Linked DNA regions of Homo sapiens: region 1 is linked to region 2. Evidence: fine-mapped expression QTL. A gene starts in region 2. The other region holds a variant in brackets. All regions are shown on one strand. Distances are from middle to middle.

Region 1 (5,380 bases), 590 kb after region 2:
TTCCACTCTCCTTCCTCCATCCCTTTTAGAGTTAACCACTATTCTGAATTTGGTGTTTTTCATGCCGGTCCTTACATTTTTATATTATCTGTTTATATCCATAGCTATATATTGTATGATTTTAACTTTATTTTTTATCATACTATATTATGATTATGCAATTTGCTTTTTCCCTAAACATTATGCTTTTGAGACTTATCCATATGAAGCTTTGTAGATGTAGCTCATTTATTTTCATGTTTGTATTTGAATACACAATCTATCCTTTCTCCTGCTCAGAGACACTTGGGTTGCTTCAGATTTTTTACCACAAAGCTTCCATGAATATTCTTGAAAAAGCCTCTGTGCATATGTGCTACAGTTTCTCTAGGGGTAGAATTGCAGGATCATACAATATGTGCATCTTTTCCTTTTCTCACTATCGTTGAATTGCACTTCCAAGAGGCTGTACTGATGTATATACCCGTAAGAAGTATATGAGAATTTCTGTTTCTCCACACCTTTGACAACACTTGCTATTGCAGGTGCACATTTGAAAAAAGTATTATCACTGTCTCTACTCTCAAAATGCCTGAAATACTACTAAATATATACTACTCAATAAATTAAAAATGTATAATTGCTTCCTTATTGAAAATATTGTACATTATCACTGATGCCATAAAAGAATCTCAAATGCCTACAAGCCTTCTCACTAGGGAAAAGTTACCCAACAGGCAAAGACTCTTTCTCTTCCTGAGAGCTTTCAAGGTGTTCATCCAAGCCATGATCAAGTTTTAGAGCTAGAAAACATTTTAGAAATCATTCTATCCAGCAGTATCATTTAAACTAAAAAATCGGAAGAGTTACGCCCAAAGTCACTCAACTATGACAATGATCATAATATTATCATTAATTTAGAACCTATTATGTGCCAAGTACCTTTCTAGATGCTTCATAATTTTTTTTTTACAGATTGGCCTCAAACTCCTGGGCTCATGAGATCCTCCTGCTTCGGCCTCTGGAGTAGCTCAGACTAGAGGAGCATGTCATCATGGCCAACTGCTTCACATATATTTTTAATCCTCATGACAATAGCCAAGTAGCTCCACAAATAGTTTATTCTCCAAAACACATTTCCATGGCTACTGAGAACGAGCCACCATGCTATTAATCTGGTGGAACAAAATTGTACCAGAGACAGCTCCTATTTTCAGAGGCATAAAATCTGGAAAGGAAAGTGACACCAAAGCATAAATGAGCATGTGAGGAAAGCTGGGTGATGGCTCAGACCAAGCCAGGCTACTGCCTTAGATCTTTCTCCAGCTATGATCATTTGGGAAAATGTCCTAAAGAAACTTATATGGGAATTAGGCTTTAGAGACCAGGGAGAACTTGGATGGGCACCATCTTACCTTGGACGTGTTATCTGGGCAATGCCCACTTAATGACCATGAGAAAGACAGTGATGGGAATCCAAGACCCTGCCATCAAAATGGGGCACGTCCAGGGGGAACGAGGAAGGACAAATCAAGCCAAAAGGAACTAGGAGCACGTAAGCCAGACAAACAGTGCAGAAGATCTGCAGAGCCAGGCAGCTGGCAACTGGGGAAAATCCAACAAAACTACTTCTCAGGAACACAGCAACAAGGTCTCCCCTGCTCTGGCCCCTGCTGCCCTACTTTCTTTACTACTCTCCCCTCCTTTGCCCTGATCTGCTGGCCTCTCCTTGGTCTCTGGTGATTACAGTAGGATCTTTCACCTGCAGTTTCCTCTGCTTGGGACACTACTCAGCTTTACACATGGCTGGCTGGCTCCTTCTCGTCGTTCCAATCTCAGTTGAGATGTTATTCCTAAGCGCCCCATCTAAACCAGCTTCTGCCAGTCCCTGCCTCCATCTCAGTAGCCCGTTTGACTCTCCTCATAGTCTTTCTCACTCCCCAAAATTACTTTGCTTCTTTATTTAACCACTTACCCCAATGAGAGAGTGAGCATCATGAGAATGGGGAATAGTTCTTGCCATGTGTTATGTGGTCAGGCCCTGGCATACAGGAAGGCTCCAGTAAACATTTATTGTTGGTGAATGAATGAACCATAATATTCCAGTTTTCAATGAGGCAGGTAGGCTGTTAGAATCTGCAAAAGTGTTTTGGGACCTTGGGGTCTCAGTCATAGGGGTGGAGTTTAAGGGAAGGATTATATGAAGGGGATGCTGAGTTCAACGTGTGAGGTAAGGGGTCCCTAAGAGGGACGCAGAAAACAGAAATGAGGCACAGGCTCAGGTACCAGAACTGAGGGTGAAGATGGGCCTCAGAACCAAAGCAAGAGCTGAGGGGGGTGAACAGGCTAAATTGTCACAAAGGGACTTTCTCTACCACAAAGTGTCAGGCTATATACTATTTAAATCCCTCCTGCCCCAGATCCGGGCAAGACCTGACCACAGCAGTGAAGTGAGTAAGGGACATGCGTATCTCCTGATCTGGCCCCGTGGTGGAGGCAAACAACTCCACGGTGGTGGAAAGCAGAAATATTTGTGTAGAGAAGTGTGAAGATGAGCTATTCCCAGCAGAAAGGACAGCAAGGGCAAGGCAGGGAGGTGAGAGAATCACTGTGTTGGGAAACAGAATAAACAGAATGTATTGGGTGCAAGGCTGAGCACCTGCTGATGAAGAGCAAGGGAAAAGGGAAAGTGAGGCCAAATGGTGGAGGAACTTGATTTCCAAACCAAGATTTTGCCATTAAATTGAGGAAATAGAGAATCTTTGAATATTACTTTACTGCTTTGGTTGGCTTTAACCAGGGAAGTTATGTAGTCATTTTGGACACTTTAGCAAGCTTCCTTAAGGCA[G/A]GAGTCTTGTCTGTTTATTCAGTGATGTGTCTCCAACTTAGTGCCTGGCACACAAAAGAGCACAGGAAAAAAAACAAAAACAAAACAAAACAAAAACACTGTCAAAGGCATTGAATTTCAACTTTAATCTGGTGGCTATATTCAGGACAGCAAGCCTAAAGGTGGGCCAACTCATGGGAAATTTATTCCAAAATATGGTTTTAGAAATTTGATTTGTTGCAGCAGGAATCGGAAAGAACAGATTTGGCAAAGGGAATCAGCAGGACTTAATGACTAACTGCATGTTTGCTTGGGGCAGGGGTTGAGGCAGGAAACAGTGCGGGAAAGAGGGGAGTAAAAACTGATCCTGAGCTAGTTTAGAGTGTGGGTGACTGAATGACACCACTATGGAGACAGAGAAGTTGGAATGCAGAGCTGTTGAAGTGGGACTGGGAAGCTCAGTGTAGGTATTTGAGATGCGTGAAGGCTTAAGCAAGTAGGGATATTTAGAAGGCAGTCGAAATGAGACTGGAGTTCTGTAGAGGCCTAAAGGAAGGATGTATATTTGCATGTAAGTACTTCGATCATTTTCAGAGACAGATTGGGAATAAAACTAAATAGAATTGAGAATATCAACCGCATAGCTAGGATGCAGTGAAACCTAACTTACCTGGCCTGCCTCGTATTCAACAGTAGAATACTAGGTTCCATTTCTAAAATCGAACATGCTGAGTGGCTTCGCACCAAAACTCAATTCCTACTAGGCCTTCAGGACCTAATGTCCTTGAAGCTAGGCCACTCACTTTTTTTAGGAGGTGGTATTGCCAAGTAGTTAAGAGTATGGCAATAGAGTTAGAATACCGGGGTTCAAATCCTGACTCTGTCACTCACTAGCCAGATGACTTTAAACCAGTTACTTAACCTCCCTCTTTCTGTCTCTGTAAAATAGAAGTAATAGTCGTACCTACCCCTAGCAGACTGTTGTGAAGACCAAATGAATCAATGTATATAAAGCATGTAGCATAGTACTTGGTAATAGCCAATGCTCAACAATGGTCCTTGAAGCTTTGTACTGAGGACTGGAATATGTGCTCTTATTTTCATTTATGAATAGAGCGTGCTTTCCCTGAAAATCCCTGGGATATTGTAGAATATTTTCAGCAAAATAGAAAAAAAAAAACCATCAATGTTCATTCTACCAAAAGAGGTCACCTCCTTAGATTTAGATTAAAAAATATACCACTTAGGCATGCTGCCACTATAGTGAGTCTAGCAACTCAGGTGCACTAAATTCTCACAATTGAAAAAGCTCTGGGATAATTTCAGTGCTATTGTTTTGGAGACTTCCTTTTACCCTGCTTTGAATTTGTCACCGTTCCAATTTTAGACAGTAAATTATAAGTCTTTAAAAAGAGAGTTCCATTCAATCTTGAGAAAAGGGAAAATGAACCCCTGAACTGGATGTCAATTACCAGTCCCTGACTTGGGCAACGTCTGAACTCTTCAGGTTGGTAAATTCAACCATGGGGTGTTGTGTTTTTTTGTTTTGCTTTGTTTTGTTTTGTTGGCTTCTTTGTTTCATTTGCAAATTTTTTTTTTTTTAACAAGAAAGTTTGTTTCAAAAGAGCCTTTCTGTTGTATTCATAGTTGTCAGACCATGGCAAGCAGTGAGGCAGTGGAATTTATTTGAATTGCCACTCTTCCTTACTTTTTAAAAAATGCTCCCTTACAATAGTAACTCTTACAAGGATAATCTACCAGCAAACATCAGTAGGCCAGACATACTGGCAGTCCCCAGTCAATCTGTAACTGAAAACTAAAAGTATAGCAGGAAATCCTAATAATGAAACTTGCAGGATTAGAGAGCTGATGAAGCAGAAAACAAAAAGTAGGTGATAACTGCTTAGTACAGCCTTGCTGGGTGTCAGGACTTTAAGGATTTTCTTAACATGTGGGTGGATCTTCATCTATTTTTGACTTCACTTTAGCCATCCAAAACAAGTCTTGGCTCTGGGTTATTTTCCATCCTCTTCCAAGATAACCCCACACAGCTATAATCAACAGAGCTATTCCAACAAGCTTTTTTTTTTTTTTTCTCAGTAGTCTTTCCCAAAGTAATAGAGAGTTCAGGTTATCATATCTTAATGTCATGTGGTACTAAATCACACACTCCAAGGAGAGATAACAAGACTGCCCAAGGAGGGTGGGTGTGGTGGGTAGGGACTTTGTCCCAGCCAATGTTCCTTTCTCTCTAGGGGGCTAAATATGTCCAGCTTATGTATGGCAAGAGGTATCAGAGCTGGATGGGGTCAGGCAAAGAAAATAAAGAAGACAGCTCTGCCAATGGCTTAAAAATGCCTAGGCTCATCTTGGTTCCATAGTTGGAAATGGGATGATTTCATCTTGTTTTCCCAGTGAATCACAAAGTGGCCTTGAGGGATCACATGCTCCTAGCTTGCTTTCCTTGGAAATAGAGACCTTTGCATTCATCTGTCAAGTGCAGAATGTGGGGATTTGTCAGGAAAGCCAAATCTTCATGTTGGTCATACCAACTGTTTTCCAGTATTCTACAAG
Region 2 (5,380 bases):
TCATAAACACGTCAAAGTTTTGAGGATAGTTTTAGAAACCCAGCTAATAAAGCTGGCTTGTTAAAAAGAGTAAAGCCAACTAATTACCAAAGACAGACAAAAGAAATATTAAAACTTTTTTTTCCAAGAAAAAGTTTTCTCCCTTAAGAGATATTGTACAACAGGGACACTAGGGCCAGTGGGCCCAGAGCTTTCTTGAAGTTCACTGACAATTTCACCCACCCTATGCTGCAAGTTGCTTTTCTAAGACATGCCAATTTGCCAAAATATTTAACTGTTTACTAATTAGTGAGGAACAGTTGAAGGCTGGAAGAAATGAGAAGGAAATGGTTTAGGGAAAGAGAAAGCAATGCAAGAATTGAATAGAGCAATCAATTATTTACTGATACTTACAGATTCTCAGAGGTTTTCAGAGATATACAAGGCCTCAAGGGCAAGTAGGGAGATTTGGCACCAGGTCCCCAATCTTCTTGTCAATAAACCAGAGGCTTACCTCTTCACTGTTGGTGGCATACTTGAAAAGCAGATTCCTTGGTAAGGATGCCTCCGCCTGAACCGAAGTACCGCCATCAGCACCAGAATCCCAGGGGTGGTCGTTCACAATGTATGTACACTTCTCTTCAAACTCAGCCTCTGTCCACAGAGTCATATCCGCATCCTCCATGTCCATTTTCATGGTCCCCTTGGTCCCCTCTGCCAATCCCTGAAACCTCACAGTGCTGGAGTTACACTTGGGGGCAGCCTGGAAGAGAAAGGAAAGGCCTTTAATCCCCATTGTCCCGCCGTTCCTGTGGCTCCTTCTGAGAGGCTATGACTAATACAGTAGTCTGAAGACTTTAAAAGCAGATGCAGAGTGCTTGGTACAGTTGAGAAAGAGCCAAGAAGCCGTATAAAGTAAACTGCCTTGAAAAGAAGCAAGGTTTTTAAATGCTACTCTTAGTTAAAAAAAAAAAAAAAAAAAAGAATGTGGCAACCTCACTGTGGGGAAAAGGAAAAAAAAAAAAAGAATCACCTCTGAACAATCCCTGGCTTTACCTCTCATGGCAGAAAAATGTTCTGGGCACACAGTCCAGTGTCCCAGAATGCCTGGGGTCATGGCCGCCAGACCCTCGGCACTGTGGAAAAGCTGCCTCAGAAAAGTGTCACAAACAAGGAGAGGAAGAGGAAGGAGCTCTGTCTGCCTCTGAATGAAGCTAAAAATGGAAAGCGCGTGTGGTGCAGGAGCGGAACCCAGCCTGCCTTTTCCAAATGGGGAAGACCGAACTTTCCCACCAGCTCCCAACGCAAAACAACTTTCAAAACAACTGCCTCCTCCCTCTGCTGCGAGCTCTCTTTCATCCTCTCACATGGAAGACTGAAAAGGGTTGCATCCTGCCAGCATCACTGAGCTACGGCCTCTTAGAAATCACTTGGACCACAGGAAAAGAGGAGGAAAAATGGGTGAAGGGGAAAACAGCCTGCAGTGTCTTCTGACTTGCAAGCATCTCATACCAAATTGAAAAGGCAAAAACAAAACATAAAACCGTTTAATAAAATTCCCTGGAGAGAATTCCTTTAGGAGTCCTCAGCTACAAATAGCACTTTCCATTTAAATCTGAAAGTGTATGAATTCCCAGAAGTCACTGATGTACTACAGTTTACTGTAACTAAAGTTATAACAAATTTAGAAGACTTGGAGGACAAGCTCTGCTTCCACTTGTACATTGATGAGGATATTCCCCCAAAATCCTCCCTCACACTCAGAAAAAAACTGTTTTCCAAAGGCAAAAAAAGGTAAACAACTTCTGTAAGGGTTTTCTCATATAGACATGTTTGATAAAAATGAGGAATATGGGTATCATTTCCATGTAAGAATGTGTGTTTGTTCAAATGTAAACATAACATTCTGTGGAAGTCCTTCAAGGAGGTTTTTACATTCTTCCACTTCTCTAAATAGGATGCTCTTAAAAAAAAAAAAGTTGGATGCAAAGTTGTTTTTCCCTCAGTTATGATTTAAGCAAACCTGCTTATTTTTATTTAGTTCCAACATGTAGAGTCATGACGCCAAACACATGTTAAAAATAAAATAAAATAGAAAACTTCAGCCAACCCGGAATAGTTTGACGAGTGTGAGCTGGAACCACTACTGAAATTTCAATGAATTGGCAATTATGTCTAGAACTGAAAGGGTTAATGATTCATAAGGAAAGTCTCACAAATGTTTGACAGCACTAAGTGCACTAAAGCAGAAGCATGTTTCTACTGCGACATTAGCCAAAAAAAATTAATAATAATAACAATAAAGGAAAAGAAAATAAAGTTTTCAGATCAATTTCAGAATTAAAAAAAAAAAATTCAAGTTCCTTACCAAGGTCGTACCCACACGTTTTTCCAAGCAAATATCCAACATCTGAGAAAAGTCTCGTTCATCTCTACCCAGTCCACATTCTCCCCGCGTCCCCCGCCAGGCTGAGCCGCACAGACGCGCACCTCGGCGGTCCCTCCTCGCTTCGTCCGGCCGCCCGGGCGCCCGCGTCCCAGCTCCGGGCGGACAGGTGCCGCGGTCGCTGCTCTTGCCTCTCCGCAACACTGGAGGGCCGAGTGTCACGGCAGCACTTTGTCTGTGTTAACCGTCTGGCTTCCCCTCCCTGCTTAAGATTTCCTTAGCCACTCGGCTGCGCGAAGTGGGGGCGTGGCCAACGTGGCCAACACCACCTGGCCGAGCCCAGGGCTTTCCCCCAGATTGCTAGCACAGCCGCCGAGAGCTTCCTCTCTTCGCATGTGTATTTCAACATTGACTTGGAATCTTCTTACTTCCCTTTGAAGGCACTTAACCTCAACGCTTACTTGGGCTCTATTGTATTCTAAACACTCCAGATCGCCCTCCTTCCTGGCGCGGCAGAATTAGGGGGCGCACGTTCCTTAAATTAAGGAAACTTAAAATTTACCTACACAGTTTCTGATTTCTCAGCTCAAATCCCCAGGTACAAAAGACACAAATCTTACTTCAAAAGAGCAAGTTAAATTGTTTTTGCAGCTAGTGTAATACAGTGGAGCTGTCTGGTCCTCAAGCTGTTGTGTATGTAACGCACGTTTCCCCGCCCCCCGCCCCAAAAGTTGTAACATTCCGTTTCTCCTGCTAACGTTCAAACTTGGCAGAACTAACTTTCCTCTTTTAACTATTTAGTAAATAGGGAAATAGGCAAAAGTTATAATTCTACAGATTGTTTGTTTTCCTTTCCTCTCCTCCCAGAACCCACAGGCTGACTTCCCAGGAGTGTAAGTAAAATGTAGAGCATTAGTCGTTTCACAGTTCAGAGGAATATTGAACTGATCACTGCAAGTGGAAAGCGGTCGGAGGCAGTAATTAGTGGGGCTTATTCTGAGCCCCGGCCAGCTTTTCCTCCAGCCCAGTCAGTCCTCTGTTGAAGGAAGGACATCCTGTGATGATGGCATACAATGTCCTGTTTGTTTATTATTAAGAGCGTGGACCTTGCATTCCTGCTTCTCATTACAAAACAAACCAGATGCTTTACTTCCTTCAATGGTCTTGTGCCTTCAGCAAGGAATCCTTTAATTCAGAGAAACAATGTTTATAGCAAACACCCCATTTCAATTATTATTTAGATCATTGAAATCCAGGTCTTCCATTTTTCCTGCTTGCCTTACCATAGGTAGGTTTTTTTAAAATCATTTCTCCTTCGACCTGCAATGTCTTTTCTAACATTTTAAATACACGTGTGCACACACATCCACCCACACACACACCCACATACACACACCCAGTTCCAACCTAATGATACCAACTTAGTCATACAATGAAATGGACATCTGAGTATTTGTTTACAGGAAGAAATGAAACAAAGCAAAACAAAAGCCCAACTCAATCCTAAAAAATATGTCTGTTTATCTTTAAAATTTCTTTTCTCACTTTTAGAAAACTTTTCTAGAATTTTTTTTAGGGGAGAGGGGGAGAGGCAAAAGATTATTTGCCAGGAAATGGTGTCTAAAGTCTTGCTGCAATCTCTCTCTCAGTACAGAACAATTAAATTCCCACTAGGGGACATGATTAGCACACACTCGCTGCTTGCTGCGTGGCCCACCTGTGATTGCATGTTATGCCAGAGGGGACGCTAGCACCAAGAGGAAGCAGGACTTTTAGAAGGCAGATCTGCTGGGGGTGGAAAACTGAATGAACAATTCCTAAGAGTCCTCAGAAAGCTCCAAGCTGATAATTAAACAAGAGAAATCCAGCCTGCTCAAGAGGGTTTATTAACTGATGCTGAGTCAGCACCACAATGGACAGAAAAACAATGTAGTCATACTGAAGGCTGGCCTGCTGTTCAAACAGTCTCACTTGCAGATGTTAAAGAGTATTTCACTTCCCTTTTAGAATCAAACTCTGTTCTTAGGCCACATACACCATCATGCAACTGCTGGTGAGTCAACCATGATAGAGTAAGGGAATAGGCAAAAAGTTTGATATTTGAGGTGGGAAGAAGGCTATTTTAAGCCAAATATTTGCTTTAATGACTGGAAGATGCCAGTGAATCAACTCACTGTTAATTAATATCAGCCTGCACTCACCTTCAGAGGTGGTGAAATGGGCTTGAGTCTAGGGAGGACGCAAACTTCAAATACCAGTGTGGGGCTTAGCCAGGCAACCCTAAAATTAGTTCCAGGTGTCCCAGCTGAGCTGGACAAGGCCACGGGTAGAACTTTAAGGAAAGTAAATTTTCAGACACAGAGTGTTGGAATGTAAAGTCCTTCACATGTTTGCTTCTTGTCTCAAAGTGATTGGGAAAAAAAAAACCTCCAAACCAACTTTTGACTATGATTATAGTAGTCAATGATGGATATCATCATTTAAAATGAAAGCTACCAAAAAGGAAGAAGAAATAAAAGAAAGGAAGCTTGCTCCATAATAGGAAAAAACATGTCCATATTGTAATATTTAGGTATTGTCCAGCACAAAACCATTAAGGGGGAATAAAAGGGACTGACCTCTGAACTTCACTCGGTCCTCCCAGAGGGCCTGAGCAGTGCACCTTTTTACTGCTGACTAAAGCTGGGAGACCCTGGCAGCAGTACAGCTGTGCAGAGAGAGCTATCAGAGGCTGCCACTGTCTGGAATCTTATGTCTCAAAGGGTTTGTTTCTAAGTAATAACTTGGTGCATTTTTAGTCACTATATTATTTCCCCCCAAGTTAGAACACCGAAAAGAACCTCAGTTATCTTTATTAATCAGCATTTCTCAGGCAGAGCTCTCACATTAAAAGTGTTCACAATGGCAGCAAATCATGAATGAGCCAAATAGTTCTGTTCTCAGAAATTCTCATCTATTCCCGTGGATGGCATCATCACAACAGTTCCATCAGCCAATTTTAATTCGGTTTCAGCT

The links. PIP is the estimated chance that this variant, and not a neighbour inherited with it, causes the effect. A credible set is the group of variants that fine-mapping cannot tell apart.
Region 1: its variant is the best candidate, but not a certain one, in a credible set for the expression of PRDM1 in cerebellum (GTEx, PIP 0.58).

The regions. Positions count from the first base shown.
Region 1 is chr6:105,492,734-105,498,113 of GRCh38, reverse strand. No RefSeq gene overlaps it. Among named protein-coding and RNA genes, the nearest start is that of PREP, 92 kb to the right of the region's middle. RefSeq lists an enhancer at 2,469-2,538. The variant G/A (reference allele first, on the strand shown) is at 2,828.
Region 2 is chr6:106,083,563-106,088,942 of GRCh38, reverse strand. PRDM1 (PR/SET domain 1) reads right to left here and starts at 2,607. Exons shown (of 7, transcript NM_001198.4): 1 at 2,348-2,607; 2 at 494-742. The coding sequence starts at 2,389. RefSeq lists enhancers at 2,260-2,979, 4,157-4,226.